Linked DNA regions of Homo sapiens: region 1 is linked to region 2. Evidence: fine-mapped expression QTL. A gene starts in region 2. The other region holds a variant in brackets. All regions are shown on one strand. Distances are between the middles of the regions. Region 1 has its middle 73 kb from the start of MPP7-DT. Region 2 holds the start of MPP7 (MAGUK p55 scaffold protein 7).

The links. PIP is the estimated chance that this variant, and not a neighbour inherited with it, causes the effect.
Region 1: its variant is the best candidate, but not a certain one, in a credible set for the expression of MPP7 in left ventricle (GTEx, PIP 0.69).

The regions. Positions count from the first base shown.
Region 1 is chr10:28,368,225-28,383,577 of GRCh38, forward strand. No RefSeq gene overlaps it. Among named protein-coding and RNA genes, the nearest start is that of MPP7-DT, 73 kb to the left of the region's middle. The variant A/C (reference allele first, on the strand shown) is at 6,204.
Region 2 is chr10:28,293,574-28,308,926 of GRCh38, forward strand. It overlaps MPP7 (MAGUK p55 scaffold protein 7), which reads right to left and starts at 9,491. Exons shown (of 17, transcript NM_001318170.2): 1 at 9,288-9,491. MPP7-DT (MPP7 divergent transcript) reads left to right here and starts at 9,596. Exons shown (of 2, transcript XR_930772.3): 1 at 9,596-10,856; 2 at 11,826-12,698. RefSeq lists a silencer at 9,038-9,677.

The DNA.
Region 1 (15,353 bases), 75 kb after region 2:
AAGCATCAGAGCTAGAAGCTATTCCTGCACACAAGTAGAAACTACTTTCAGTGAGCAGAATCAGGAAATACGATGACTTGTCTACTCAGGCACATACTTAAAGAAAGTACCCAAACCGAAGGAACTAGAAAGACTTTCGCTTCTTTTGAAAAGAAGGGAAGTGGTGAGTGAGCTTCGGCATTCAGCCCCACCCAAAGAGCTCCCCAGACCTGGGCCACAGTGTCAGGAAATTGCAGCAGAGAGTTCAGAGAGACAGGACTAGGTCCAGCAAAGGAAAAATGATTAAGGGGTCAAAGACAGGGATAAAAGTGGCTTTTTTTCCCCAAATATTGAGTTGGAGTCTTTATTTTTATTTTGTATTTTTATTTATTTTTATTTTTTGAGACGGAGTCTCGCTCGTTAGCCCAGGCTGGAGTGCAGTGGCACAATCTCAGCTCACTGCAACCTCTGCCTCCTGGATTCAAGCAATTCTCCTGCCTCAGCCTCCTGAGTAGCTGGGATTACAGGTACGCACCACCACACCCAGCTAATTTTTGTATTTTTGGTAGAGACGAGGTTTCACCATGTTAGCCAGACTGGTCTTGAACTCCTGACCTCATGTGATCCACCTGCCTTGGCCTCCCAAAGTGCTGGGATTACAGGCATGAGTCATCCTGTCTGGCCAACTTGGAGTCTTGAATGAAAAATAAGAGATACATTTTCAAATTCATGCAAAGTGCAAGCATTTATCTTTGGTAAGCATGGGTTTGCAATCTGAAGAATCTGTAGATTTTTCAGGTGAAGATGAGCAGAGTAGGAAGCAAATATTGTACTTTGACCGATTTTTTTTTTTTTTTTTTTTTGAGACGGAGTCTCACTCTGTCACCAGGCTGGAGTGCAGTGGCACAATCTCAGCTCACTGCAACCTCCACCTCCTGGGTTCAAGCCATTCTCCTGCCTCAGCCTCCTGAGTAACTGGGACTACAGGTGTGCACCACCGCACCCAGCTGATTTTTTTGTATTTTTAGTAGAGACGGTTTCACCATGTTGGCCAGGATGGTCTCGATCTCCTGACCTTGTGATCCACCTGCCTTGGCCTCCCAAAGTGCTGGGATTACAGGCGTGAGCCACCGCGCCCTGCTGGCCAATTTGATTTTAAGCAAAAGGTTTCATTTTGTTACATACCTCACCGTGCTCTGGCCACATCCTAGAAGATGGTGACACCATAAGAAGGGGCCAGAACACATCCTGAAGCAATATACTAGTCACTGTCACCTTCACCCCCATGCCTCAGAAAGTAAATTTACACCCCACCAGGGAGCAAAATTACACTCACATACACAAAACATGAAACGCCGAAGCATCCTATTGTGGAAGTCAGTTTTAACATAAGAAGAAAAGTCTATGCCTTCAAGAAATATTTATTAGGGCTGGGCCCAGTCCCTCATGCCTGTAATCCCAACACTTTGGGAGGCCAAAGTGGGAGGATCACGTAAGGCCAGGAGTTTGAGACCAGCCTGGGCGACATAGCAAGACTCCATCTCTAAAAAAATAAAATAAAAATTAGCCAGACAGGGGCTGGGCGCGGTGGCTCACACCTGTAATCCCAGTACTTTGGGAGGCTGAGGCAGGTGGATCACGAGGTCAGTAGGTCTCTACTAAAAATACAAAATTTAGCCAGATGTGGTGGTGCGCATCTGTAGTCCCAGCTACTCGGGAGGCTGAGGCAGGAACATTACTTGTACCTGGGAGGCGGAAGTTGTAGTGAGCCGAGATTGTGCCACTGCACTCCAACCTGGGTGACAGAGTGAGACTCCATCTCAAAAAAAAAAAAAAAAAAAAAATTAGCCAGACATGGTGGTGCACACCTGTAGTCCCAGCTACTCAGGAGGCTGAGGTGGGAGGATCACTTGAGCCAAGGAGTTTGAGGCTGGAGTGAACTATGACCACAGCACTGCACTCCCTTCTGGGCAACAAACCAAGGCCCAAAGAAAGAAAGAGAAAGAGAGAGGGAGGGAGAAAGAGAGGATGGAAGGAAGGGAGAAAGAGAGAAAGAGAAAGGAAAGAGGGAAGGAGGGAAGGAAGGAAGGAATGAAGGAAGGAAGCAAGCAAGCCAGGTGGTGGGTAGTGGAAACAGTGAGTGCAAAGGCCCTGGGGTAGGAGGTATGTGCTTGAGGAACAGCAAGAAGGCATGCAGGGCTGGAGTGGAGTTAGTAACAATGAGTTCATTTCACCTGAAGTCTCCCTTTTAAGCAATGAAATTGAATGCCAAAGAAGTGAATTACCTAATTAATTGTAGCTTCTATCCAAAATGATAAGTGGTAGCAAACCTGAATTCACACCCTCAGTCCTTGGCAGAACCATGCTAAGTCTTCTGGGACTGTTGCTAGTCCATCTGGTGCCTTTGGGCAAATTAGAAAATGGTGTTCCTTCCTCCAGGCAAAGGCCGCTGCATGACCAGGTGCACTACTTGGCAGATGGTGCTTGGCCTGGACTTCACCTGTCATTTGCCCCCACAGTCAGGCACTCTCAGCTGGGCCCAAACTGCACAGCAATATGCATTGGCCAGAATCAACAGCATCTTTTCCATACTGTTATATCTCCCCTAGTATTGATCGAATCATTCCCCAAGCCAATGGTTTCAAGTTTGAACTCTTAGTTAATTCTCATCATATAGTTCATTTTGCAAGAGGTGTGCAGCACCATGCTGCTTTGAACCATTTGGTAGGTGTTGCAAATAGTTGAATGGTGGAAAAGTTGAATCTGTTTGGCCACAGATGGACTGTAAGATGTGTATTGGATTCCCTTTGCTGCTGTTAAAAATTAATGCAAACTTAGTGACTTAAAACAACACAAATTTATTATCTTATGCTTTTGGATGTCAGAACTCCCAAATTCAAGGTGTCAGGAGTTGCATTGCTTCTGGAAGCTCAGTGGGACAATTCATGTACCTGCCTTTTCTGACTTCTAGGAGCTGCCTGGATTCCTGGACTCCTTGACCCTTCCTCCAGTTTCAAAGTCAGCAATGCAGCACCGTCAAAGGGTTCTCTCTCCCTCTCTGTCACACACACACACACACACACACACACACACACACACACACACTCACCCCTGCTTTCATCATCAGGTTGCCTCCTCTGACTCAGACCCTCTGCCTCCCTCTTATAAGAACCCTTGAGATGACACCGAGTCTGCCTGAATAATCCAGGAAAATCCAGGATAAGCTCGCCATTTGAAGATCCTACATCTAAAAAGTCCCTTTGTCACATTCGGTGACAAGGCAGCGTCTGGGAATTAGGATGTGGACATCTTTCGGGGGCATTATTCTTCTGACCACAAGATATAATAAAAAAGTACACTCCCTGAGAAGGCCCCTTGTTTGACACTGTTCCTGGCCTTAAGAATTGTTTTAGATGTTCATTCTTCACCTCTTGAAGGCTTTCTGATTTTTAAAGAATTCACTGATAAAAGACAAATGCTGTTGGGAGCACCATTCATGGTAGCAAAGATATGGAATCAAACGGTGCCCATCAGTGGTGGACTGGATAAAGAAAATGTGGTGCATATACACCATGGAATACTATGCAGCCATAAAAAAGAATGAGATCATGTCCTTTGTACAACATGCATACAGCTGGAGGCCATTATCCTAAGTGAATTGATACAGGAACAGAAAACCAAATACCACATGTTCTCACTTGTAAGTGGGAGCTAAACATTGGGTATATGGGGACATAAAGATGGCAACAATAGATGCTGGGGACTACTAGAGAGAGGAGAAATGAGGAGGGCAAGGGTTGAAAAACTATTGGGTGCTATGCTCACTACATGGGTGATGGGATCAACTGTACCCCAAACCTCAGCATCACACAATATACCCAGATAACAAACCTGCACATGTACCCCCAAATCTAAAACAACAGTTGAAATTTTTAAAAATTAAAAAAATAACCCAAATGCTTCTGGGAGGGAGAACATGTTAAGTGTTATCTGTTAAGACTTGAGAGAGACGAAAAAGACCCAGGGAAAGAATTAGAGAATGTAAGGAGGGGTGTTTGGGCACTACGGGCAAAAAAAATAATTAATTTTCAGTTTTGGCCAAGAGCTAACTTGCCGCCTTAGAAAGAGCAACGCGTCTGGGAATAAGGAATCTCAAATTCTAGTCACTAATTAGTCGTTAATTGCAGAAATTGCATTTAGTATCTTTGTGTCTTTCCTCACGATGAACTGAGAATAATAGCTAATCCCTTGGGCAGTGAGATGACACTTAAAAACCTGAAGTAGAGCTGGGCACAGTGGCACACGCCTGAAATCTCAACTACTTGAGGGGCTGAATCGGGAAGATCCCTTGAGGCCAGGAATTTGAGACCAGTCTGGGCAACAATGTGAGACTCTGCCTCTTAAACCTTTTTTTAAATTCACCATGTGTGCTGGTGCACATCCGTAGCCCTAGCCACTTGTAAGGCTGAGGCAGGAGGATCACCGGAGCTCAGAAGTTTGAGGCTGCAGTGAGCTGTGATCGTGCCACCATACTCCAGCCTGGGCAATAGAGCAAGACCCTGTCGTAAACAAAAAACAAAACAAGAAACAACCCTGTATGTAAAAGCCCCTAGAAAAGCTTAACAAACTAGCAAATATTCCTTTTGTGATAGGTCTTTGACATACACCATCTCTTTTCATGCTCGGAAGTGCTATTTGAAGCAGGTGCTATCATGACCCTCATCTGACAGGTGAGGAGACTGAGGCTTGGGCTAAATAACCAGAGAAAGGTCATGCAGCGAGGAAGTAGCAGAACTGGGATGTGAACCTGGAATTATGTAACTTCAGGGTCGCTACTTTCTATCACTATAAAGTATTCTGCCTGCAGGCTGGGCCCAGTGGCTCACGCCTGTAATCTCAGCACTTTGGGAAGCCAAAGCCAGCAGATGGCTTGAGTCCAGGAGTTTGAGACCAGCCTGGGCAACATAGCGAGACCCCATCTCTACTAAAATTACAAAAATTAGCCGGGCATGGTGGCGCACGCCTGTAGTCCCAACTACTTGGGAGGCTGAGGCAGGAGGATTGCTTGAACCCGGGAAGCAGAGGTTGCAGTGAGCTGAGATTGCACCACTGCACTCCAGCCTAGACCACAGAGTGAGACTCTGTCTCAAAAAAAAAAAAAAAGAAATATATATATATACACACATATATATACACACATATATATACATATGTATATATATATGTATGTATATATATATATATTCTGCCTGTAAAACCTAGGTGGGAAATCTGGAGACAGCATTTGGGTGAGGTCATGGCAAGGTGGCAGAGAAAACAAAGCAAGCTCGTATTTTAAAATTCCAAAAGGGGGCAATTCCAAGGTGGTTGATGTTTGAAAGAATATAGTTTAGGATTTGGCATTGTGAGCCATTTTAAAATCCAGGCAAAAGAGATGGAAATTAGCAGCACCTGCTCTTCCCTGGGTCCCCTGCCTCTCCCTGGGTCCCCTACCTCTCCCTGGGTCCCCTGCCTCTCCCTGAAGCCTCTGAAGAGACCCCCAAAAAAGGCCAATTTCAGGAGCCACACAGTTATTTTGTCTGTTAAATTATCAAACACTCACATCAGGACTCTAGAAAAGAAGAAAAGGAAAGAATAAAATCTTGAAGATATCAGAAGAAAGAATTTATGAATGAAAAATTACAAACCAGGCCATCATTTAAATAAACAAATACATTCGAATGGAGTTATTTGAATAAGAAAACTCCTCCATCGACATAGTCTAATTTATGAAATTGTCACTGAGAAAAACATAAATGAAAGAAGAAAAATTGTAAGAAAAAAATCAAAATCATTGGAATAGATTAGACAAATAAGAGACCATTATGGACAATTTATATTTTAAAATAGACAAATGCACATTTTCAAAAAATTAACAGCAGAAGAGATACAAAACTGGAAAAAAAAAAACAAAACAGGAATGTATTTCCCTGACCTGGGTCCCACTAAATCCTCCCATGAACATTCCAATGAGAACACAGTTTCCATCTCTGTAGCTTGAACTCCTACCCTTGGCTTCCTCCCTTTCTCCATCCACCCTCTCTTTGCCCAGCACAGACCCCACCTCACCCCACAGCCCTTCCTGCACCGCCACCCCATCCCATCCGCCCCTCCAAAGCTACCCTGGCATCTTGTGGAACTCAGGCTCAATTATAAACAAGTTTCCTTACAAGTTAATGTATTCT[A/C]TTAGTCATTTACTTTTTAAACTATTGTGTTAATTGTGAATAAAACAGAGCAAAATCCTTGTTCTCTGATAACTTACATTTTAGTTGTGGAAGGCTGATAATTATAATTATGATATAAATATATAGGTACAAGTATTATACATAAAATATATAAATATATAATATAATGCATAATACATAAATTCATAATCAATATATTTCCAAATGGTTAGCATTTCACCATTCAGGTGCACTTACCCTTCTGAGACCTTACAACTACACAAGTTCTGTCTGCACACAGGAGAAATTTTATTCTGGAACTCAGCTAAATGCTACTTGAAATTTTTTTTTTTTTTTTTTAACGGAGTCCCTGTCACCCAGGCTGGAGTACAGTGGCACTATCTCAGCTACTGCAACCTCCCCCTCCCAGGTTCAGGCAATTCTCCTGCCTCAGCCTCCCAAGTAGCTGGGCCTGGCTAGTTTTTTGTTTGTTTGGTAGAGACAGGGTTTCACCATATTTGCCAGGCTGGTCTCGAACTTCTGACCTCCAGTAATCTGCCTGCCTTGGCCTCCTAAAATGCTGGGATTACAGGCATGAGCCAACGCGCCCGGCCTAAAAACACTTTTTTTTTTTAAAGGTGCAATCCGCCATGTGACTTTCTCTTAGTATTGAATATTTTTGTTGCATTAGTTTTAACTTGATGTTGGAATGTTATTCCTGTAGCAGAAAATACTACACAGCTGTCAACTGTGTTCCTTAGTGCCTAGCCAGAAAAATATTTGGAGGCTATTTCAAAAGTCCTTCTTCATTTATGTGGCTTTGCTGATCAACTTTTCAATCAACTACTGAAATTATAGTTTCCAGTGAAGAGAGAGAGAGGGGGTAAAGTGGTGGGAAGTAACCCATCTAGATGTGCAATAATATCAGAAAGAATTTTCGAAGAATTTATTTGGATTCTAGAAGATAAAAGGAACTATCTCATTCTCATTCAAAAAGATTCTCAGAACAGTGAAGACTTTTAAAATACATGTGTTTCTCTCTCCCCCCCACACACAAAAAAACGTTAAAAAAAAAAATCATAATCAGTTGGTGATAAGGCAACCGGAGAAAAATAAAGCAGGCACTGAGTCTCCTTAGCGCTAAATTTCTGGCTGCCTGAAATGCTGTCAACAATTGCTGGATGGAGTTTCTTCTGCCTCCACCCCCTGCATTTTGCCAAGGTCACCTATCACACCTTTACCTAATTATCTAGAGCAAATATAGTTCACATGTAGATATAGTAATGCATTTAATCCCTATAACAAGCCCATGAGGTAGATATTATTATGTCAATGTCACTTTTTTTTTTTTAACATACACAGAAACTGAGATACAGAAATTAAGGACATTTCTTAAGGCATCACAGATAGAAAGTGGCTGAACTGGAATTTCAAGCCCAAATGCCTGTCTCCAGGGTTCCTGCACTTTACCACTTCAAGTCTGTCCACACTCCCGCTGAGTCATCTCACAGCCACTCCTCCAACTGACCTCCTCTGCTTCAAAATGTTGAGGTATGTTCAGTCTTCCCTATATTTAGAAGTTGTCATTCCTCTTTTCCAAGCCTCTTTTCCTGTGCCTTTACCCTACTTTGTACCTCCAATTATATACCCTTCTTTTACGAGGCACTGTCGTAAAAATTAATATGCCACGTTTTTGCCCTGCTTAGTACATGAACCCTTGCTTTAGTTGTCCTGAGGGATCTGTAAACCTGGAAGGAGATTAAGATTATTGTCACCAAAGCAGGCCGGGCATGGTGGCTCATGCCTGTAATCCCAGCACTTTGAGGAGCCAAGCGGGCAGATCACTTGAACCCAAGAGTTCAAGACCAGCCTGGGGCAACATGGTAAAGCCCTGTCTCTACAAAAACTACAAAAATTAGCTGGGCGTGGTCATGTGTGCCTGTAGTCCCAGCTATCTGGGAGGCTGAGATGGGAGGATCGCTTAAGGCCAGGAGGTAGAGGCTACAGTGAGTCGTGATTGTGCCACTGCACTACAGCCTGAGCAACAGAGTGAGATCCTGTCTCAAAAAGAAGAAAAGATGGTTGTCATCAAAGGAATGGCAACAATTTCTAAAGAGAGTCATGGGTCATCCCCTGTAGCCCCTACTCTTGCCCACCTCCATCCCTGCATTTAATCCGCTAGGCTCTATGGAATCAGCTCACAAAGGTCTATTGTGCGAGAAAGCCCTAAGCAATGTAAGGTTTAGCAGAGCTCCAGGGGACCAAGCCAGGAAGCAGGAGAAGGGGGCAGTGGGTGGGGAACTGTGAGAAGAGGAGAGAAAGGCGTAAGGCTGGGTGATTCTGTGTTCTAATGCTCCCCTTCCAGGCTCTGCCCTGGAAAAGGGGAAGAGGTCAGAGGAGAGGCTCCTGCCCACTGCCCATTTAGGACTCCAGGGGTTCAAAGGTGTTACACTGTGAGATTCAGCCACATCAATTGGCTTCCATGAACAAACTCCATCACACCCTCCCTATCTTTCTCATTTCCTCTTCTGATTTTTTACCTCTTCTTCCATCTCTCCTAGTTCCACTTCCGTCTTTCAGTCTTTGCATGCGGGTGTTCTCCAAAGTTTTGAACTCAACACTTTTGTGATCTCATTTTTTTTCTTATGATATGAACTGTCACCTGTAGACAGATGTTCCCTAAATCCAGATGTCTGGTTATAACTTCTCTCTTTTGAATCTCTGTATTGTATCTCAAGCCCTCTTAGATACTTCCACCTGTTCTCTTTGCCTGTAACTTCAATTTGATACAATTAAACCCACATCTATTCCTGCCACCTTCCAAACCATCCTTCCTTCTTTCCTGTAAATGTTAAGGGCACCACCACTCTTTGTAAATTTCCCTACTTTCTATGTTGAGTGAAAATCTTCAAACCATTCCAACACACGTTTACAATAACTTAGTAAAATGCCCAACACATATAATTACTATATGCCAGATGCCAAAGGCTTTCCATATAGTAATACATTTAATTCTCACCACAACTCTATGAGACTGCTACTATTATTACTACCATTTTATGGCTAAGTAAACTGAGGCATAGAGAGGTTGTCACCCAGCTAGTTAATGGCAGATGTTGGCATTTGAACCCAGGCAGTCTGGTTCTGCCATGTATTCTTAATAGATGTCTGTATTCTTTTATTTTTTATTTTATTTATTTATTTATTATTTTTTTTGAGATGAAGTCTTGCTCTGTCGCCCAGGCTGGAGTGCAGTGGCACAATCTCAGCTCACTGCAACCTCCACCTACTGGGTTCACACCATTCTCCTGCCTCAGCCTCCCGAGTAGCAGGCACTACAGGTGCCCACCATCATGCCTGGCTAATTTTTTGTATTTTTAGTAGAGATTGGTTTTCACCGTGTTAGCCAGGTTGGTCTCGATCTCCTGACCTCGTGATCCGCCCACCTTGGCCTCCCAAACTGATGAGATTACAGGCGTGAGCCACCATGGCCAGCCGACGTCTGTATTCTTAATTCTTATTACGTAATAAGGCCATGTTAAATAAAAAAACTGATATAAAATTGTATACATAACATAATCACAACTAGTAAAACACACAAGCAAAACACAATGTAAATAATTAGGTAAAGAAAAAAGACAAGAACGAAATATACCAAGATATCAATAGTGGCTATACTGGTGCAAAAAGGACTGAGAACAATTTTATTTTTTATCCTCTATTTTTTTTTATTTTTCCAAATTTCCTATTATGGGTATAATAGTTATAATGAAAAATAAATTAATACATTTTATTTTTAAGTGACTGCAATCAATTGAAACATGGAAATACAATTGTGGCATACTTCCCTCTCTCCAACAAAAAAATAACTTATACATCTGAATCTTGCATTCAACTTCACCATTCTAGTTCTGGCTATTATTTTCTCCCACCTACTTATAGACTCTTATATTTATAACCATCCTACATGCTGGATTAATCTTTTTTTTTTTTTTTTCTCTCTGAGACAGTCTTACTCTGTCACCCAGGCTGGAGTGCAGTGGCATGATCTCGGATCACTGCAACCTCCGCCTCCTGGGTTCAAGCAATTCTCCTGCCTCAGCCTCCCAAGTAGCTGGGACTACAGGCAGCGCCACTGCACCCAGCTAATTTTTGTATTTTTAGTAGAGGCCGAGTTTTGCCATGTTGGCCAGACTGGTCTTGAACTCCTGACCTCAGGTGATCTGCCTGCCTCAGCCTCGCAAAGTGCTAGAATTATAGGTGTGAGCCACCGCACACAGTCTGGATGAATCTTTTAAAGGCAATGTTTTCTTTATATCACTTCTCTATTCAAGAGATTTCTACCTTCCTGTTAGTCATGGAATTCTACTCAGGCTCTTTAGCCTGGCATTGAATTTGTCCGCAAGCTGGCCCTAACCTTCCCTGCAACCTTTTCTCCCATTTTTTCCCTGTATGTTTCCCATGATCCTATCAGTTTCATTTCGTTTCTTTTGCCTTGGTCTCTTCTAGTTCCATGCAGCTCCTCAGGTGGCGAGGTAGCCCTGACAGAGGTACATCAGCAGCCTGCACCCAACTTCTGGAGTGTTTTGGATTGGCTTATGCTTCTCAGGGACCCAAGTCCACTGGCCTGGTCAGATCTCCTGTGCTCCTGAGCATGGCCCTGCCCAGTAGCCTTCCCTGTCAGTCAGTGCTGGGAGCCAGGGAGCCAGGAGGAAGTCAGGAGGGAGCCTTCCTTCCAGAGCATTGCCAACCCTCTTCCAGACGAGCAATCTGCCTAGTTTGTGGGTTCGTTCTGCTCTTTGTGTTCTATTTTTCTTCACGTTTTTCTGGCAGAAATGATGGCTTGGTGTTCTGCACAAGTCTAGCCAGGTTCAAGCTGGATCCTTCCCAGCCCTCTTGACTTCTGTATTAGACTAACAACTCAATTTCCGAAGCATAGGACTCTGCTCATTGAATTGGACCTCACTGAACGACCTGACCCATGCCCAAGGACACTGGGTCCTAGAGATCGCAGGACTTGAGCTACTTAAGTGTCCGCGCTGAGCCCTGGCTCTGCTGCCTCAGAACCTCTCTTCCAGATCTGCCCCATCACCCTGCCAGCCTGCATTGCCAAAATTGCATGTCAGGGTAACTGGGAGCTTTTCTGAGATTAAAGTTTCTCCCAAAATATATCCTCCTCAATCTTTCCTGCCCCTTGAGCCTTGGATTATGTCGTTCCTTTTGCTCAGAACTCTCCTATGAACACTTATAACTTTTCTGCCTTTTTTTTAAACCCCCTTTTTATTGAGACAGGGTCTCACTCTGTCTCCCAGGCTGGAGTGTGGTACTGTGATCATGGTTCACTGCAGCTCCAAATTCCCAGGCTCAAGCCATCCTCCCACCTCAGCCTCCCAAGTAGCTGGGAGCACAGTGGCATATGCCACCAGACCCAGCTAATTTTTTTTTTTTGTAGAGATGGGGTCTCACCATGTTGCCCAGGCTGGTCTTGAACTCCTAGGCTCAACTGATCCTCACGCCTTGGCCTCCCAAAGTGCTGGGCATGAGTCAGTGTGCCTAGCCTAAAAAAATGTTCTTTTATTGTGGTAAAATATACATAATATATAATTTACTATTTAAATAATTTTTAGGGCAGAGCTCGGTGGTTCACACCTATAATCCCCAGGGCTTTGGGAGGCCAAGGAGGGAAGATTACTTGAGGCCAGGAGTTTGAGACTAGCCGGGGCAACATAGCGAGACCCTGTGTCTATTATACATAAAAATTAAAGTAAAAACAAAATTAGCTGGCATGGTGGTGGTACCTGTAGTCCTAGCTACTCAGGAGCCTGACATGGGAGGATGGCTTGAGCCCAGGAGTCTGAGGCTGCAGTGAGCTATGATCACGCCACTGCACTCTAGCCTGGGCAGAGTGAGATCCTTTCTCAAAAAAAAAGGAAAAGAAAAAAAGAAAAATTAATCATTTTGAAGTATATAACTCAGTGGCATTAAGTACCTTCACAGTGTTACACAACCAACCTTCACCATATTCATTTCCAGAACTCTTTCATCATCCCAAACAGAAACTCTGTACACATTAAACAATAGCTCTCCATTTCCTCTCCCCACAGCCGCTATAACCTTTAATCTGCTGGTTTTTTTTTTTTTTTTTTTAGACAGGGTCTCCTCTGTCCCGCAGGTTGAAGTGCAGTGGCGTGATCTCAGCTCACTGCAACCTCTGCCTCCCGGGCTCGAGTGATCCTCCCACCTCAACCTCCCAAGTAGCTGGGACTACAGGCGCACACCAACACATCCAGCTCATTTTTGTATTTTTCATAGAGATGGTGTTTCACTATGTTGTCCAGGCTGGTCTCAGACTCATTAGCCCAAGCAATCTGCCCAACTCAGCCTCCCAAAGTGCTGGGATTACAGGCATGAGCCACCATGCCTAGCCTTTAGTCTACTTTTTGTTTCTATGAATTTGCCTACTCTTAAGTACCTCATATAAGTAGAATCATACAATATTTGTCCTTTTGTGTCTGGTTGTATTAGGGTTCTCCAGAGAAATAGAGCCAATCGTAGATAGATATAGGCAGAGACAGAAAGAAGGAGATTTATTATGAGGAATTGGCTCATGATCTTATAGAGGCTAAGAAGTCAGCCGTTTGTAAACTGAAGACCCAAGAAAGCTCTTGTGTATTTCCAAACTGAGTCTGAACGCCTGAGAACAAGGGGAATCGATGGTGTAAAGCCCAGTCCAGAGACAGGAAAAAGACCAACGTCCCCTCATGCTCATCCCAGAATAAACACCCAGCAAATATTTAATGTATTAAATACATGAGACGTTAATGAGTGACTCTAACAAATACAAATCAGAATCCTTCATTTTTTGACATTTGTATTGAAAGCGCCTAGTTTTTACTTACTAATTTCTACAATTTTTTTATTTTAAAAACTCTTAAAGAAGCATGTGTATATTATCTGATGTCGTTTTGCCAAAAATAATAATCTATTACAATCCTATAATAAGCTAGATATTATCTAATTATTCTATTAGGTTGAAATAAGCCAATGTTTGTCAGAAGGAAAAACTGACCCATGTAAGTGTTTATTTCAAGGGTTTTTCTTAACTGTGGATATCTGATCTTTGAGAGCTGCTGGTTTTAATTCTCATGCATCCTTCTGAGAAGTCACATTCTCAGAAGTTATTTAATTATGGAAAATGAAGAAGCCATAGGCTTATAGCATGAAATTCTAAACCTTGCCTGTCATAAATGTTGCTCAACAAAAGTTTCATATTTTGCAAACCAAGTGTTCCTCAGTAACACTCAACTACATAAGTTATGCTTGTCAGAGAGCTAATGGCATGGAAGAAAGAGGAGAAAAGTAAGGAACATTTAATAATAACTGGAAATGTACATTATTTCATGTCTTTTTTAATTCTATGATTCTTTTGAGCTGAAAAACTAAATGTGAAAAAGCAATCCAAAAAACAGTTTGAAATATGTTAAAAGTGAAGACAGAGATTTATATTGCAATACCCACCTCAGCCTTAACTGCGCTGTCTTCACCACAATCCTATAATTGTCTCATAAACTCCAAGCAAAGACCAAACGTTGACCACTGCTTTTCTCAGCAAAAAACATGGGCCTGAAATGTATCATGCAAGGTGTTACACTGCCACCTGCTGGTACGCCATCAATATGCATGGGAAAGAAAGGATCCAACACAGGACCTTTTTTCTCCTCCTTTCTCTCTTAGGGGTAATCTCCCAGAGGAGACAACGGTAAACTAGAAGAAAGGGAACGTGGAGGCCATTTTTCTTGGTCCTGGCAGTATAATTCAGCCTCCGAGATCTAGAAAGATTCTTTTTTTTTTTCATACGGAGTCTCGCTCTGTTACCCAGGCTGGAGTGCAGTGGCGCTATCTCCGCTCACTGCAACCTCCGCTTCCCGGGTTCAAGCAGTTCTCCCGCCTCAGCTTCCCGAGTAGCTGGGATTAGAGGTGCGCACCATCACACCCAGCTACTTTTTTGTATTTTTAGTAGAGACGGGTTTTACCATGTTGGCCAGGCTGGTCTCGAACTCCTGACCTCACGTGATCTGCCTGCCTCAGCTTCCCAAAGTGCTGGGATTATAGGCATGAGCCGCCGCCCGTCTAGAAAGATTCTTAAGTAAACAACAATACACTCTAACACTATTGAGTGGTACCATATTCCTCTAAGACTTACAGAATTCGAAAAACAAACAAATCCAGTTCTAGTCTCACAGCATTGACGTTAGAGTTTCCAGAGAAGGGGTGTGGGACATGGGAATATGAGTCAAACTGTAGAAAATTACTTCACCCTTATAGTCAACATTGTTTCATCTGCAGCTCTTCCGTAAAACAGGATTAGCTGTAAGGCATGAAGAGCTTTTCCATCTTGAGTCCATCTGTGCGACTGCCAGAAAGGAGCTTTGTGCAGTTAGAGGGTCATTCTGTGGGAATCAGAGACAGATGTTAGACCTGTGCTATCCAGTACAGTAGCCACTAGCCACAGGTGGCTACTACGCATTTGGAAAGTGGCCAGTCTCAATTGAGATGTGCTGTAAGTACAAAACACTTAGTGGATTTCAAAGTCTTAGCATTAAAAAATATATAAAATATCTTTTTATATTGATTATATATTGAAGCGTAATATTTGGAATATGTTGAATTAAATAAATATATTATTTAAAAATAATTTCATCTAATTTTTTTTTTAAGACAGGGTCTTGCTCTGTTGCCCACGCTGGTGTGCAGTGGCACGATCACAGCTCACTGTAGCCTTAACCTTCTGGGCTCATGTGATCCTCCCCGCTCAGCCTCCCGAGTAGCTGGCACTACTTGTGCACACCACCATGCTCAGCTAGTTTTTGTTTTTGTTTTTGCGAAGACGGGGTTTTTGCCATGTTGGCTAGGCTGGTGTCAACTCCTGAGCTCAAGCTATCCACCCGCCTCGCCTCCCAAAGTGCTGGGATTACAGACTTGAGCCACTACTCTAGGCTATTTAAAAATTTTTTTTAATGTGGCTTCTAGAAGATTTGTAAATTACATATGTGGCTCACATTATTATTCAATTGCACAGGACAGAGTTTGACAAACAATTATGACTAAGGTTAATTGAGTGCTTACTGTGTACTAAGGGTTACCTAGCAGGTATACTATGCCAAGGTTTTT
Region 2 (15,353 bases):
ATACAATAAAATAAGGTGGGAGACTCTACACGGACCAATCATGACAGTGTGCCATGAAGTGAGTGCTAACTCCAGTCCGAGCCCCTGAGCTGGGGAGGGAGCGGAGCGGGGCAGCTCCGCGTCACAGGTCCCTTCACCCAACCAGCAGGTATTCAGTCTCTACATACCAGGAACTGCATCCCATCCTAGCGACCGAGTAGCAAAAGATCAAGCCCTTACCCTCATAGGGTTTATGTCCTAGTGAAGGAAACAATAAAAAGGAAACAAATAAGATAATGATAAGAGAGTGTTAACAGCTAACAAGTAAGACAGTGATAGTGACAGAAAGTGATGGAAAGAGGGTTTCACTAATGAAAGGATAGCCAGAGGTGAGATCCCGCAGGTCTGCAGAAAGAAAATGAACCAGGCATTCAGCAAGCCGAGAGATGAGATCCCAAAGAATTGCGTTCAAGGGCTGGGCGTGGTGGCTCACGCCTGTAATACCAGCACTTTGGGAGGCCGAGGCGGGCGGATCATGAGATCAGGAGATCCAGACAATCCTGGCTAACACAGTGAAACCCTGTCTCTACTAAAAATACAAAAAAATTAGCCGGGTGCCTGTAGTCCAGTTTAAATATGTTTTAAACTGGAGGCTGAGGCAGGAGAATGGCGTGAAGCCGGGAGGTGGAACCTGCAGTGAGCTGAGATCACACCACTGCACTCCAGCCTGGGGGACAGAGCAAGACTCCGTCTCGAGAAGAACTGCGTTCAAGGTCATCAAATACAAAGTTGTCATAGTACAGGCGACAGTGTGTTCTAAAGATGACTTTCAGGTACTTCCTGTCATTCAGCTCCCAGAAGCAACCTTCAAAATACCTGTTATATAAAATGTAAACTATAAGGGTTATTGTGAGAGTCCAACATACGGTGATTAAAGAATGCAAACTTTTTGAAGGGGAAGAGGGAGGAGGCAGCATCGATATGAATGTGCTATGCCTCTAAAAAATGTTTCTGGAAAATTACTAGGATCCACAAACTTTTCCTTCACTCCTTAAAAAGTAATTGAGTAATCATATTTTTTCCCCAGCACAGTGCCAGGAAATGAGGTTAAGTATTAAATTTTCTGTCTTTGCTTCAATTGTATAAGATGCAGGATCCTATTTATTTTATATACGTACTGTTTTTATGGATAAAAGAAAACATTTATTGCATGCTTGCAATCTGCAAGGCCCTGTTCCCTGAGCTTCTACACATTGGAGCCCACTTACATTCACAACAAAATACTATATTATTTCCACTTTAGAGACGGAACAACAGAGGTTAAGAAACTTGCCTAAAGTCAAAGTACTAGAAAGCAGCAGAGCAGAGATTCAAACCCAGGTCTTTCAAAGTGTTAACCACTACACTTACGTTTCCCCCTAGAGTGGCTGGCCCCTGCAGTGGCTGTAGCACATGGCCTTAGAACTTATTAGAAATGCAAATCGCCAGGACCTCCCCTCCCAGACCGACTGATCAGAAATTCTGGGGCTGGAAGGCAGCTGCCTAAGGTTTCACAAGCCCTCCGTGTGATCCCAAGGTATGCTAAAGTTTGAGAACCACTGGTAGAAATTTTTCATACTAAGCATAATGTGAAAGGTGAAATTACTACCATTTTGAAACTTCTAAAATATAAAATTTGTATCCTATTTAAAATGACTATGAAGAAACGAAAACAGTGTTAGTTCATTTCCTCACTGCTCAACTTCTTTCTCCCAAACTTGACAAAATGCCTAATCTCTATCCTGATTATACTATGTACAAAAAGGGTACTCTGATGAGCGTTAGAGCACAGAGGTCTGAACTCACTCTTCAGAAGTAATCAGAAGCCATAATAGGAAGAGAAAAAAACAATATTTTGAATATCAGCAGAAGCTTGATAAATCTTGGGCCATAACTCCAAATTTTGATCCCAGGCTCAACTCCAAATTTTTACAACATGACTTCAACAGTCTTCCCAATGCCAAAAAAAGAAGTTACAACCCCGAGAAATATTTGATTAACAAGATTCAAACTGCTTTAAGTGCACATACAGAGAAACTGTCCAAGAGTGTGTTTTTATCAGGAGTGAAGCTAAGGAATGCCTAATTACACATCAGACCCTCTGACAATATTCACAGCAAAAGGGGTTAACGTTATCCCTGTCCCTGCACACACCTGCCGTGTACGGCATCCTACCTGATCCTTCTCTTTTCAAAGCTATATCTAGACCGGGAGACTTTTCTCCCCAACTCAAGTACTCAATTTGAGCAGTACAGCTCTATGTGTATTCAAGTTTGCCTATTTCTAATAAGGCCTTTTTTTGTTGTTAAAGGGATGGAAGAAAGAGTATGAGAAATAAGTATATTCAAGCACCTACCATAATCTGAAATCTTCCATAAGCCAAATAACTCTCTGAAGCTATTCACTCGCATACTCAAGTCATTAATTTTATAAATTTCAGGTTTCTACTTATTCCAAAAATTTAAAACATAAAATTGAAGATTAAGGAGTACTTAGTCCAAGCTTGGACCACAGGAGAGCTATAAACCTGTCTTAAAATGCTTAATGACCTGATTAAGGTCATCAAAGGTAAAGAAAACTCTAGGAAGCAGCCTTTTAATCTGCCTGGCTACTTACAACCACCCACCTTTTCCATGCCCACGCTCTCCTAAGGGCTGAAGGCACTGCCAAGAATGACCTTCCTAGAAGGGCTGAATCCTATTTATTTTCTCTCTCCCAAATCTCCACCAAATCCCCTAAGAACTGGCAGTGTTCTGGTAAGAAACAATTTACTATTGCTCTCCTCCCCACCCACAGTTCAGTGCAACTGAAGTGAACACACACACACCCCAACCACTGAAAGACTTTCTCACTTAGATTCCTATCCTGCATTTTCAAAGTCCAAAGTTGTCTTCAAAATATCTTGCAAAATGCAGTCGTACCAGCTAGTCTTTAATCTCCACTAACATTGCCAGTTCTATACCCAAAATGGATATCGCAACTGCTATGTATTTTCATCTCCCTTCTCTAACAATCAGTAACAAGCAACCCAATCAGTAATAAACAAGCCTGACAAATAGCTCCTAAATTCACAGAGAAAAGAATGGTCTCCTCTCTTTCATAAGTAAAGCAAGCTGATAATGTTCTAGTAAATAGAAAGACTAAATGCCTCTTCAAGAAAAAAACATTTATATGCCTGGAAAAAACATCTTGGGTTTTTTTGTTTTTGTTTTTTTACTTAAGTATCTGTTCATAGTAGGTAGCAAATAATCTTTCCACACATATGCACTTTACCAGTTCTTTTAAAGACTCAGTAATCTAAGAAAGCAAAGCATAAGACTATGCTGAAAGAGCTAAGCCGCAGTTTACATAAAATTTAAACAAAACACAAGACATTAAAAAAATTCAACTACTCATAAATAAAGACCAATAAATCTACACTTTGGTCTGGGTTTCTGAACACAGGAAGAATCAGAGGGTTCAATAGGAGAGGTTATTTCTGAAATCGTAGGCATACCTTGAAGATATCACATGTTCCATTCCAGACCACCTTAGTAAAACTAACACTGCAATAAGGTAACAGAAATGTTTCTGCTTTCCAAGTGCATATAGAAGTTATATTTACAGTATACTGTAGTCTATTATGTTGGCAATAGCATTAGCTCTTAATTTTAAAATGCTTTATAATTTTTTTAAAATGCTAGTGATCATCCGAGCCTTCAGGGAGTCATAATCTTTTTGCTGGTGGAGGATTTTGCCTTGATGTTGATGGCTGCTGACTGAACAAGGTGCTGGCTGCTGAAAGATGGATGGCTGTGGCAATTTCTTAAAATAAGAAAACAATAAGGCCGGGCGCTGTGGCTCACGCCTGTAATCCTAACACTTTGGGAGGCTGAGGTGGGTGGACTGCGTGAGCTCAGGAGTTCAAGACCAGCCTGGTCAACAGAGTGAAACCCCATCTCTACTAAAATATAAAAAATTAGCCAGCTGTGGCAGTGTGCACCTGTAATCCCAGCTACTCAGGAGGCTGAGACAGGAGAATCTCTTAAACCTGGGAGGCGGAGGTTGCAGTGAGCCAAGATCGTGCCATTGCACTCCAGCCTGGGCAACAGAGCGAGACTCCGTCTCAAAAAAATAAAAAAAATGAAGTTTGCCACATCAACTCACTCTGCCTTTCAGAAAAGATCTCTCTTTTGGTAGCATTTCACCCACAGTAGAACCTCATTCACAATTGAAGTCAATCCTATCATACCCTGCCACTGCTTTATTAACCAAGTTTACAGAATATTGTAAATCGTTCATTGTCATTTCAACAATGCTCACAGCATCTTCACCAAGAATAGACTCTCTCTCAAGAAGCCACTTTCTTTGCTCATTCAGAAGAAGCAACTCTTCATCCATTCGAGTTTGATAATAAGATTGCAGCAATTCAGTCATATTTTCAGGGTCTACTTCTAATTCTAGTTCTCAGTATACTATTTCCACCACATCTGCAGGTACTTCTTCCACTGAAGTCTTGAACCCCTCAAAGTCATCCATGAGAGCTGGAATCAACTTCTTCTAAATTCCTGTTAATGGTGACATTTTGACCTCCTCCTTTGAATCACAAATGCCCTTAATGGCATCTAGAATTGTGAATCCTTTCCAGGTTTTCAATTTACTTAGCCAAGATCCATCAGAACAATCACTATCTATGGCAGCTATAGCTTTACAAGATGTGCTTCTTAAATAATAACTCTTGAAAGTTGAAATGACTCCTAGATCCATGGGTACAGAGTGGATGTTGTGTTAGCAGGTATGAAAACATTAATTTCCTTGTACATCTCCATCAGAGCTCTTGGGTGACCAGGTGCATTGTCAATGAGCAGCACTTGTTCAATGGTACCCTTTCTTCTGAGCAGTGGGTCTCGACAGTGAGCTTAACAGATTCAGTAAACCACGCCATAAACAGATGTACTGTCATCCAGGCTTTGTCGCTCCATTTATAGAGCACAGGCAGAGTAGATTTTGCATGACGCTTAACAATTTTTGGAATGGTAGATGAGCAGTGGCTTCAACTTAAAGTCACCAGCTGCACTAGCTCCAAACAAAAGAGTCAGCCTGGCCTTTGAGGTGAAGCACTGACTTCCTTCTAGCTAAGAAAGTCCGAGACGGCATCTTCTTCCAATATAAGGCTGTTTCATCTACACTGAAAATCTGTTGTTCAGTGTAGCCACCTTCATCAGTGATCTTAGCTAGATATTCTGGATAACATGCTACAGCTTCTATATCAGCATTTGCTGCTTCACCTTGCACTTTTACATTAGGGAAGCAGCTTCTTTCCTTAAACCTCATGAACCAACCTCTTCTAGCTTCCAACTTTTCTTCTGTAACTTCCTTACCTCTCTCAGCCTTCATCGAATTGAAGAGAGGGTTTTGCTCTGCTGGCTTAAGGGAATGTTGTGGCTGGTCTGATCTTCTATCCAGACCACTAAAACCTTCTCTATATTAGCAATAAGGCTGTTTCACTTTCTTATCATTTGGACGTTCAGCAGAGTAGCACTTTTAGTTTCTTTCAAGAACCTTTCCTTTGCATTCAGAGCTCGCTTGTTTGGTGCAAGAGGCCTAGCTTTTGGCCTGTTTCAGCTTTTGTCATGACCTCCTCACTAAGCTCACTCATTTGTAGCTTTTTGATTTAAAGTGGGAGACACGCGACTCTCCATTCACTTGAATACTTAGATGCCAATGTAGAGTTATTAATTGGCCTAATTTCAATATTGTTGTGTCTCAGGGAATAGGGAGGCCTGGGGAGAGGAAGAGAGTTGGGGAATGGCCAGTTGGTGGAGATATCAGAACATATGTAACATTTATCAGTTAAGTTCACCATATTATATAGGTGCAGTTCATGGAGCCCCAAAACAATTAGAATCGTAACATCAAAGATCACTGACCAGAGATCACCATAACAGACAGAATAACAATGAAAAGTTTGCAATATTGTGAGAATTACCAAAATATGACAGAGACACACAAAATGAACATACACTATTGGAAAAATAGCACCAATCGACTTGCAGGGTTGCCAACGAACCTTCAGTTTGTAAAAAACACAGTATCTTCAGAGAGCAAGCCTGACTAACAATTTCCTTCACTTTAAATTCAAAATGAAGGAATACCCTTTCCTTCCGAATGTATCTCATTTAACAAAATTCAAGACTTTTTTTTTTTTTTTTTGAGACGGAGTCTCGCTCTGTGGCCCAGGCTGGAGTGCAGTGGCACGATCTCAGCTTACTGCAAGCTCTGCCTCTTGGGTTCAGGCCAATTCTCCTGCCTCAGCCTCCCGAGTAGCTGGGATTACAGGCGCCCACCACCACGCCCGGCTAATTTTTTCTATTTTTTAGTAGAGACAGGGTTTCACCGTGTTAGCCAGGATGGTCTCAATCTCCTGACCTTGTGATCCGCCCGCCTCGGCCTCCCAAAGTGCTGGGATTACAGGCGTGAGCCACCATGCCTGGCCAAAACTCAAGACTTAAGTCATTCATTACAATTTTGTCTGAATTGCAATTAGGAGAGAAACAGCTGCAGTACCTTTGTATCTTTGTCAGTGAAATGTTTATAACAAGGAAAAACAAAAATCTGTTTGAAATCTCCAGTAAGCGCCCCCCAGTGCACCATCTAGTGGAAGTCAGGTAGTGTCATAATTAATTTAAAGAAAAAAGTCACAGAAACTCTGAAAACCATTGGGGGAGGGGGAGAAGTCAAAGCTTCAGGTAAGAATACAAGCAAATACTTTACAAACAGCCAAAATATCTTTCCAGTGTCCCACAATGCAAGAGGGCTGGGCTTATGAGAATAAATGATTCATTTTCTGTATAATCAACAGATGATAAAAGTTCCTTTATGGAAATTTTTGCTTGGGTGCTAGAAATTTTGACAGGAGAGTAAAAGTTAAATAAAGCCACTAAAACATAAATAAGTAAATAAATGCTGGGCTAGAGTGACAGCCTTGTGTAAGAAGAGTTGCCTTATATGTTACATGAATATGTTAAAATGTACATGTGAAACAGAGGTATTAGCCACAAAACAAGAGATAACTTCATGATTAGAACAGTTACATTCAGGCTGGGTGCAATGGCTCACGCCTGTAATCCCAGCACTTTGGGAGGCCAAGGCAGGCAGATCACTTGAGGTCAGGAGTTCGAGACCAGCCTGGCCAACATAGTGAAACCCCATCTCTACAAAAATATTAAAAAAAAAAAAATAGCTGGGCGTGGTGGCATGCGCCTGTAGTCCCAGCTACTCAAGAGGCTGAGGCAGGAGAATCACTTGAACCAGGGAGGCAGAGATCACAGTGAGCCACAGCACTCCAGCCTGGACAACAGAGTGAGACTCCACCTCAGAAAAAAAAAAAAAAAGAGTTCCATTCAGTAATCCATAAGACATTTTCATGTTCCTGATAACTAGTAAATTTAACAAAACCTAACGATTCTCTAGAATTCCCTAAGCCTTAACATCATACAAGCGGCTACTCCCAACTACCCATTTCAGCCTGTCCCACACTAATGCCCAAACTCCTTTGGTCAAGTTATTCTAATTAAGAAATTATTCTTCAATCCGTCTATAAATTTACAGTAAACACTTCCCGAAACAAAGTCATAAGTCATGATCAAAATGCATTACACTTCATTAGTATTTTCCTTCTGCATATCAATTATTTCTATTCAATTCAAAAAAAGGTACCGAAATTCAATGCTGAGCTAGAGATGCAAACACAAATAAGGTTCTCTAATTTGGAAAGCTTCCCAAAATTTAAAATAGAGATTTTCACACAGCATTCCTAACTTTTGTTTGTTTTGCCTGTGTGGAAAATTACCTTTCACCTGAAATTCAAACTAGCTAAGCAACCTGAATGGAAAGAAAAACCTCGCAGATAATATTTCTTTACTTGAAAATAACCATCTCCACCTCTGACCTGTGTATACGGGATCAAATTGGTATGCAGAAGTTGGCTTGATGGCGGGAATCTTACCCAGATTTTGGATTAAATCCATTATAGGTATAAAATAAAGTAGGAGTAAAGTGGGGCAGGATTCCTTTCATTTCTAGGGCTTTCAGTTGACATACCTGTAAAATGGACATGCTATGCACAGCCTGCCTCAGAAGAGTAGGAGGATGGCATACTATATAATTGATAGAGTGCTATGAGCTTCACGATTAAATGGAAATACTGTTTTTATAGAACCAGAGTGAACCTGAGCATAGAAAACTCTCCAAGGGCCATCGCTGTGACATTACCGCTAAAACTCAGTGACCTTCATCAATTCACTTGTAAACAAGCAATATATTGAGCAAGTCAAAGGAAAGGCAGCAACAATTCAAGATACTTCTTTATAAGTAAATCAAATTACGTAATTAATAGCCCAGGATTTACCTGCAAACTATTACTGCCTGACTAGCAGGTGCATCCCCAAAGCCTCGAGTACAGAGACTGTTTTTAGAGAGCCCCCCCTTTTTTAAATGTGAATATTGCTTTTAAAAATTAGAAAAAGAAAAAAATCACAATTCTACTCCCACCCATGGCACAGTGACAGAAACAAGGTCCCACCCCCACAATCCTTTCAAACCTGCACAGGCATTCCTCACGAACACTCCTCCCCCTCATTCCTACCTCACCGCTCCCCACTTCAGCCCAGACAAAGCTGAGTTACTCGGCTGGGTCTACCTGTCACTTAAGAAAAAGCCCCCAAATAGATTCACGCTAAATGCTGCTTTTAATTTTTTAAATAGCAAATAAGTAAATAAATAATGCTATCGTGTAGATTACACGGCCAAACGCCTGTTCTCAGAAAACATGTAATTAACACGACCCAAGTGAAGACGCCTTTCTGGCTTAGGGAAAGAAAAAAAAGAAGCCAGCCAGCTTATCGCTCCCTTTCAGTCGGTTCTTTTCCCCGGGGAGCCGGACTCTGACTCAACTCCGCAGTTTTTCCTCCACCTGTCGGTTCTCCCCGCTCTGGGTCTGCCCCGCCGCCGCCCCCGCCCGGAGTCCCGCGCGTCAACAGGGGTCTCCAGGGGTCCTCAGGGTCCCGCCCGAGGCGGCCCCGCCCCTGCCCCGGCCCCGCCCCCACCTCCTCACAAGGTGCCCGCCGCGGGCTCCCAGGCTGAGGCGCCTAGAGGCCGGCAGGAGGCTCCGGAGGACCGCGGCACCGCTCGGCCCGGTCGCCGGCGCAGGGAGCAGCTTCGGGGGCCGACCCCACCGCCCGAGCCTAGCCCTGGGCTCCGACAGGCGCTCCCCAGAGGCGCCCCATTACCTGCTCTGGGCTGCCGCGGTCCGCGGGCAGGAGGCGCACTCGCTCTGGCCCCTGCAGCCCCGGGCCCGGAGGCAAGGAGGCAGCGACCGCCACCGCCGCAGAGGACAATCGGGAGCCAGCGGGCTCGGCACCGCCGCGGCGGGCGCAGAACGCACGAGCCCAGTGGGAGCCCGGCCCCCGCCTCCAGCCCGGCTAGTAACCAACACGGCCCCCACCCTCGGAGGGGCGGGACCGCGGTTGGAGGGGCGGGGCGGGGCTGCACCGCCCGCGGGTAAGAGGGGCCTGCTGATAGGCTGCGAAGGCGATAGGCGTCTCAGACTTGAAGACGCCTCTCCAGCAGAACTCCCTCATTGGTCGGCAAGAGAAAACAAAGCTGGGCTCTGATTGGTGACAGCTCTGTAGCTCCTCCTCATACCCGCAGTCCCCGCAAGTTCCACCCCTGCCCGCCCGGTTCGCTCGCCCTTGGTTCCCACTCCCAGGTGGCTGCAGACTGGAGTGTGTTTCATGGACGAGCAACCTCCCTGAGGAGAACCCCGGATACGCAGGTTCATTCGCCAGATGCGAGTTTTCTTAAGCCGCTGCGATTCTCTGATTTCAGTATGAACTTGGTGAATAACGTAATCTTTAACTTCCTTTGGATTCAGACAAGTCTCCTAGGTTTAAAAATGCTGCATAAGATTGAGAGGGATATTGTTATGCACGAAAAAAGACATAAGGTGTTTTCACCTTTGGCGACACTGTAGGTGACTTTTTCTTATTACCTTTTTGTGTTCCATATTGAACATGTACTACATGATTAGAAAAAAAAATTCTTAAATAGAAAAATGAGTAGGGTGCGGAGAATGGTAAAGACAAACTTTAAGGAAATCCAGAGAACTGATTCTTTCACAATAGAAGAAAATACAGTAAACATGCTTAATATCTGAGGGCTACCCCGAAAAAACATGAACTGGTATCAGCGCCCTTCAGCTCTCTTAAAGAACTTTACATATGTGACCGAGGTGCCCCCATACTCCTTCCTATCATGTAACCAACACATAATGTGGACAGCACTACACTGCAAACAGAATTACAGGAAGACTCTTATAGGAAGAATTAGAATCCAAAGTACACAATCAATAAAGCTTTAGAAAAAGGGGTAGTAAAAAGCAGAAGACAAAAAAAAATCAGGTAATATAAATTGGAAAGCTCAGCTGATGGAGGGAATCATCAGAAAAAAAATAATGTGACAACACTTCAAGATGTGATAGAGACTTTGAATGGAAAGCTGAAGGGAGAGGAAGGGGATTGAGATAAGGATCAATGACCTGCAGTTAATATGAGCTCTCAGAACACATCCCCCAGAACTGGTGTCAGCCTAGAAGGCAAGAAGCATTTCTCACCTAGGGACCACTCTCACTTAACTCTCTCTAGCTGCCTTAACATTCTGTTTGTTCTTGTCATTCTCGCAAAGTTCTAAAACAGGCTATTTGAAATTAAGCACTTCCCCCCAGCAACTCCGTGAATTACGTAATAGTGAAAAATGGAGATAGACAAAAAGCAAACCTGAGGAAGGAAAGGAATGTTAAGGTAAACATAAACTTAAAGAGAAGTAAGGGCAAAACACCTGATAGAAAGAAGACAAGAAATTCTTTTTTCTCTCTTACTTCCTGAGAATAAAGTAAAGGTCTTTGGAGGACAGAATAACCTTATTGCCTAACAAAAAGAGTTTTTACCAAACCTTTCTAATAATAACTGTAATTCTAAACTGTAGTCTAAAAATACGTGTCCTAAAGTAAGTACTTTGAGCAAATAGTTTTGAGATCTAATATTTTTACATTGTGTAAGGAAAAGAAGAGGAACTTAGCCTAGTATGAACAAACTGTAGGGAATACCCTTCAAAAGTTTCTTCTACAATAACACCTGAAATTCCATCACTAACATTCTTTCACTGGGATTAAATAATGTATGTCTAAGATTATTCTTTTATTCATTTACTCATCAAACGTAATCAATATTAATCATCAAATACTAGATACTGCAATGAACGAGGCTTTCTACTAAGCACTCAGAGTATAGCCTTGAACAAGACAGACTTGCAGCTGTTTTTATCAGAAGATGGACAATGATCCAATAAAAAGATAAACTTCCAGACCGGGATCAGGGCAAAGAAGAAAACAGTGACCAGAGGGATGGGAGACACACTTAATTTTGGGAAAGGAGAAAAATGCTTTAAGGAGAAATGATCTAAGAGAAATGCTCTAAGATTTGAGGCACCACCTAAATAAGAAAACACCAACTTAGCAAAACTCCAGGGCAGATAAAATAGCAAGAACAAAGGACTTGAAGTAGGAAGAAAAGTGATGTATAGCAGGAACAGAGAGAAAGCCAGCATGGGTATCATGGTGCATAAGGAGAGTGCTACTAGACAGGTTGGAGAAGGAGGTGAGGACCTCGTAGGCAATGGTAACTTTGTATTTTGTTACAAGGATTCCTGACGGGCAACATCGAGTTGCTGATAGTGGAGTAAAATCATTATTTTTTTTTTTCCTTTTTCAGAGTCACCAGTAAAATGAGCATTCATTCATTAAGCCAATCATCAGGAATGGATCTAGGAAGAACCTACTGTTTACTAGAAATAGGTTAGATCTGTGGATATAACAATGAATAAGACAAGACTGGTGGATCTATAGAGAAACTATTACTGCACAGGTGATGGGGAAATCAAGAGTACTATGGGGCCAAGGAGACTGTCCTGCAGCAAATGAGGAATAAGCTGAAACATCAGTAGGAGCCATCCCAGAGAAAAGGGACAGGGTTCTAGATCCAGAGAACAACAGAAGAGCATTCAGCGCCTGCAAGGGAGCAGGGGATCTAATGCAAAGCCATTGCATAACCAGTCAACTTTCCCCACATCACAAGATTGCCTAGCCTGGATGGCCCCAGAATGTTGAAACAAATGTCTAATTAGTAACGACATTCTGAATGCTTGGGAGCTGAGCAAAATATGAGGAGAAGCAACCTGATTTTTGTTTCATATTATCATCTCCTTTATTCCAGCAACAAAAGACACTGAAAATAGTAAATGCCCACTTTCAACCATGACAGCCCTTTTAGGATAGTAACGGTGAGCAGTATTAATCCTATTTGACCAGAACTAGGGCAGAATTGAAGCCCCTGGAGTAGAGATCTGTTCTATTAGCCCCAGCCTTTCCGCCTGCTTCTTGGGATGGCTATCTTTACTTTATCAGTTGAGCCTCCAGCATTAGCAGATACCTATAAGGGAAGAGATCCAGCCCTCACTATGGAGGGCCAGAAAGAGAAAGCACCAGACATTAGGAAATGTCAAAGTATCTCAGTACATCCAGCTGATTAGTGACAGATAAGTCAAAATTTGCAGCAACTAAATAAATCAAAAAGTAGATTTTAAAATGTGATCTTTGAAATATTTGGCACAATGCTTCAAAGCCACTGAAAAGCTATCTCTTCACCCTAATAGAGGACAGAAATTCATTAGATAGACAGAAGAGGCTGCATACAGTAGCCCATGCCCATAATCTCAACAACTTTGGAGGCCAAGGTGGAAAGATTACTTGAGGCCAGGAAATCAACACCAGCCTGAGCAACATAGCAAGACATCTTTACAAAAAATTTAAAAATTAGCCAGGTTTGGTGGTGTGCAGCTGTAGTCCTAGCTACTCGGGAGGCTGAGGTGGGAGGATTGCTTGAGGCCAGGAGTTCTAGGCTGCAGTGAACAGAGATTTTGCCACTGCGTTCCAGCCTGGGCAACAGAGTAAGACCCTGTCTCTAAAATAGATGATAGATAGATAGAGAGAGAGAGAGAGATGATAGATAATAGATAGTTGATAGATAGATGATAGATAATAGATAGTTGATAGATAGATAATAGATCGTTGATTGATAGATTAGATAGATGTATAATAGAACCCAAAGGCAAAAATAAGTTAGTCCTCAGGAAGACCCAGATCGCAGACCTGAAAAGCCAGGAGGAACTCAATGGAATTTTTTTCCATAGCAGGTGCTCTCTCTACACCTGTGCTCTATTCTCCTATTCTGATAACCAGCCCCTGGCTCCTATGTCCCAGTGTCAGAGAAATGATGTTCCAGAGCTGCACCCACAAGGACTAAATCACCTGCCTAACCCTAACCCTAATCATAGATGATGGGGGCTGCAGGGGACCAGTATGGCTGCCAGGGCCCATCCCTGTTTATGAGCAGAGGTTTCCCAGAGAAGACACACTGGGCAGATTACCAGACACGCATTCATTGCACCCCTGACATTTTCAATCGCCAGTCAATGAGGCTTCCTTTCTAGTTACTGAAAGTCTTCACCTGCTGTTTATAGTAAACTGGAGACCTAGAGGCCAAGGCCGAAGGCTTGGATGGTAATTTCCCACATTCTCTGGAAATCTTTCTACTTCAGTTGGCTTCCAGACACCCAGTACCCTTGTGTGTTCCAGTTTCAAGTTGCCATTCTTGTTCAGGTCTTCTAGTAATTTCCTGTTTCCCTATCTGAAGTGTACCTCCTGACATCAATGTATTCAAAGAGCAAATGCTCCTGCCAAATCTATGAGTGTCAGTGAACTAGCCTGCTGCTCTGGGCTCAGATGAGACCAGCTTGCAGAACAAGCAGGACAGAGGCGTGAAGGGAAGCAGATGGCAAACCTCGATCTGCCACCATCCCTTCCACAGGCATTCCGTATGAGGACATCTGTCCCCACCCCTGGATGAAAACTTGGGTGATCCCGAAATTTTTCTGATTGCTCACAGGTAATAAAAATCATTTGGTCAGTTTAAATCACAATATACAGCTTTAATTTTAATGTAAATGCCATTGATCAACACTTTCAAGCTTCATTCACAGTTAAACTTTCCCTCTGCTTCCCCAGAAAGGGTCCCATGCAGCCAAGCTATGGAACTCCAAAAAGGGGGAAAGGATCCTTCTCTCTATCCCCCTAGAATCCCCTTCAAATTCAGGTTGCAAAAAGAAGGGGGAAGAGTCCAGGACTAGCAAGTTCATGCTTAACTGGTGCATTGCTAGCAGGGGTTGCTCTCCAAGCCTGGACAATGACTAAAATGTGCGCTTCCTTCTTGGGTCTTTTCTTGGGTTCTTAGAGACCTGTACTTGAAACATCCAACTCCACTTCTCTTGACCTGAGCAATGCAATTTTCTCTAACACTTCCCCTCGCTTTCTCATTCCCTGCCAGTCACTTTATAGTCTCCTGTTGCAGGGGAAGAAGGGAAATGGTCGCTAGGCTGCTCCAGGTGATCCTTGTAGGCAGGATTTAAACTCCTTCAGCCCAGCTGTCTCTTAACAAACAGCTGTTATCTGGTCCTTCAGACATTCATCCATACTTTACGCCCATGGTTGGTAAAAGTGCAGCTGGCTGTGTGCAGACTGGTCTTCAGTGTTCTCTCTCTCCACCACTGCCCCACTGCTGCCTCAAGCCAGTATCTTCAGCCTCTCCACTTGAGATTTGTCTCCAAATACCAGGGGACACAAATCAAGTTGCCTTCATGGTCTGCCTCACTGACACTGCCTCTCTAGTGAGTTTAAGGAGAAAGGTCTCAAAGAAGCAGGAGTAACAGAATTGCTTTCTTCAGAGAAAACATCTTCATAGATTCTTTCCTGAACTCCACTTCCTCTGCCCTTTTATGATCCTATTTTGGGTGAGGCACTTTTAAGAGTCACCAAGGGGCTAGGATATTTCCTTTTAAGATTTGCTTCTTGCTCTGACAACTTATTTTGGAATGTCACACCTATTAATTATCTTGGTGTGGTAGTGCACACCTGTAGTCTCAGCTATTCAGGAGGCTGAGGCAGGAGGATTGTTTAAGCCCAGGAGGTTGAGGCTGCAGTGAGCTATGATCACGCCATTGCACTCCAGCCTGGGCAACAGAGTGAGACCCTGTCTCAAAAAAAAAAAGACAACAACAACAAAAAAGAATTTCACATCTATTGTCTCTTCCTGCTTCAGTCAAAACTTTCTTTTTACATTTTTCTATATTGATGTGAATCTGTAAAAACTGCTCTTGTTAATTAACACCAAGGACACGGACTAAGA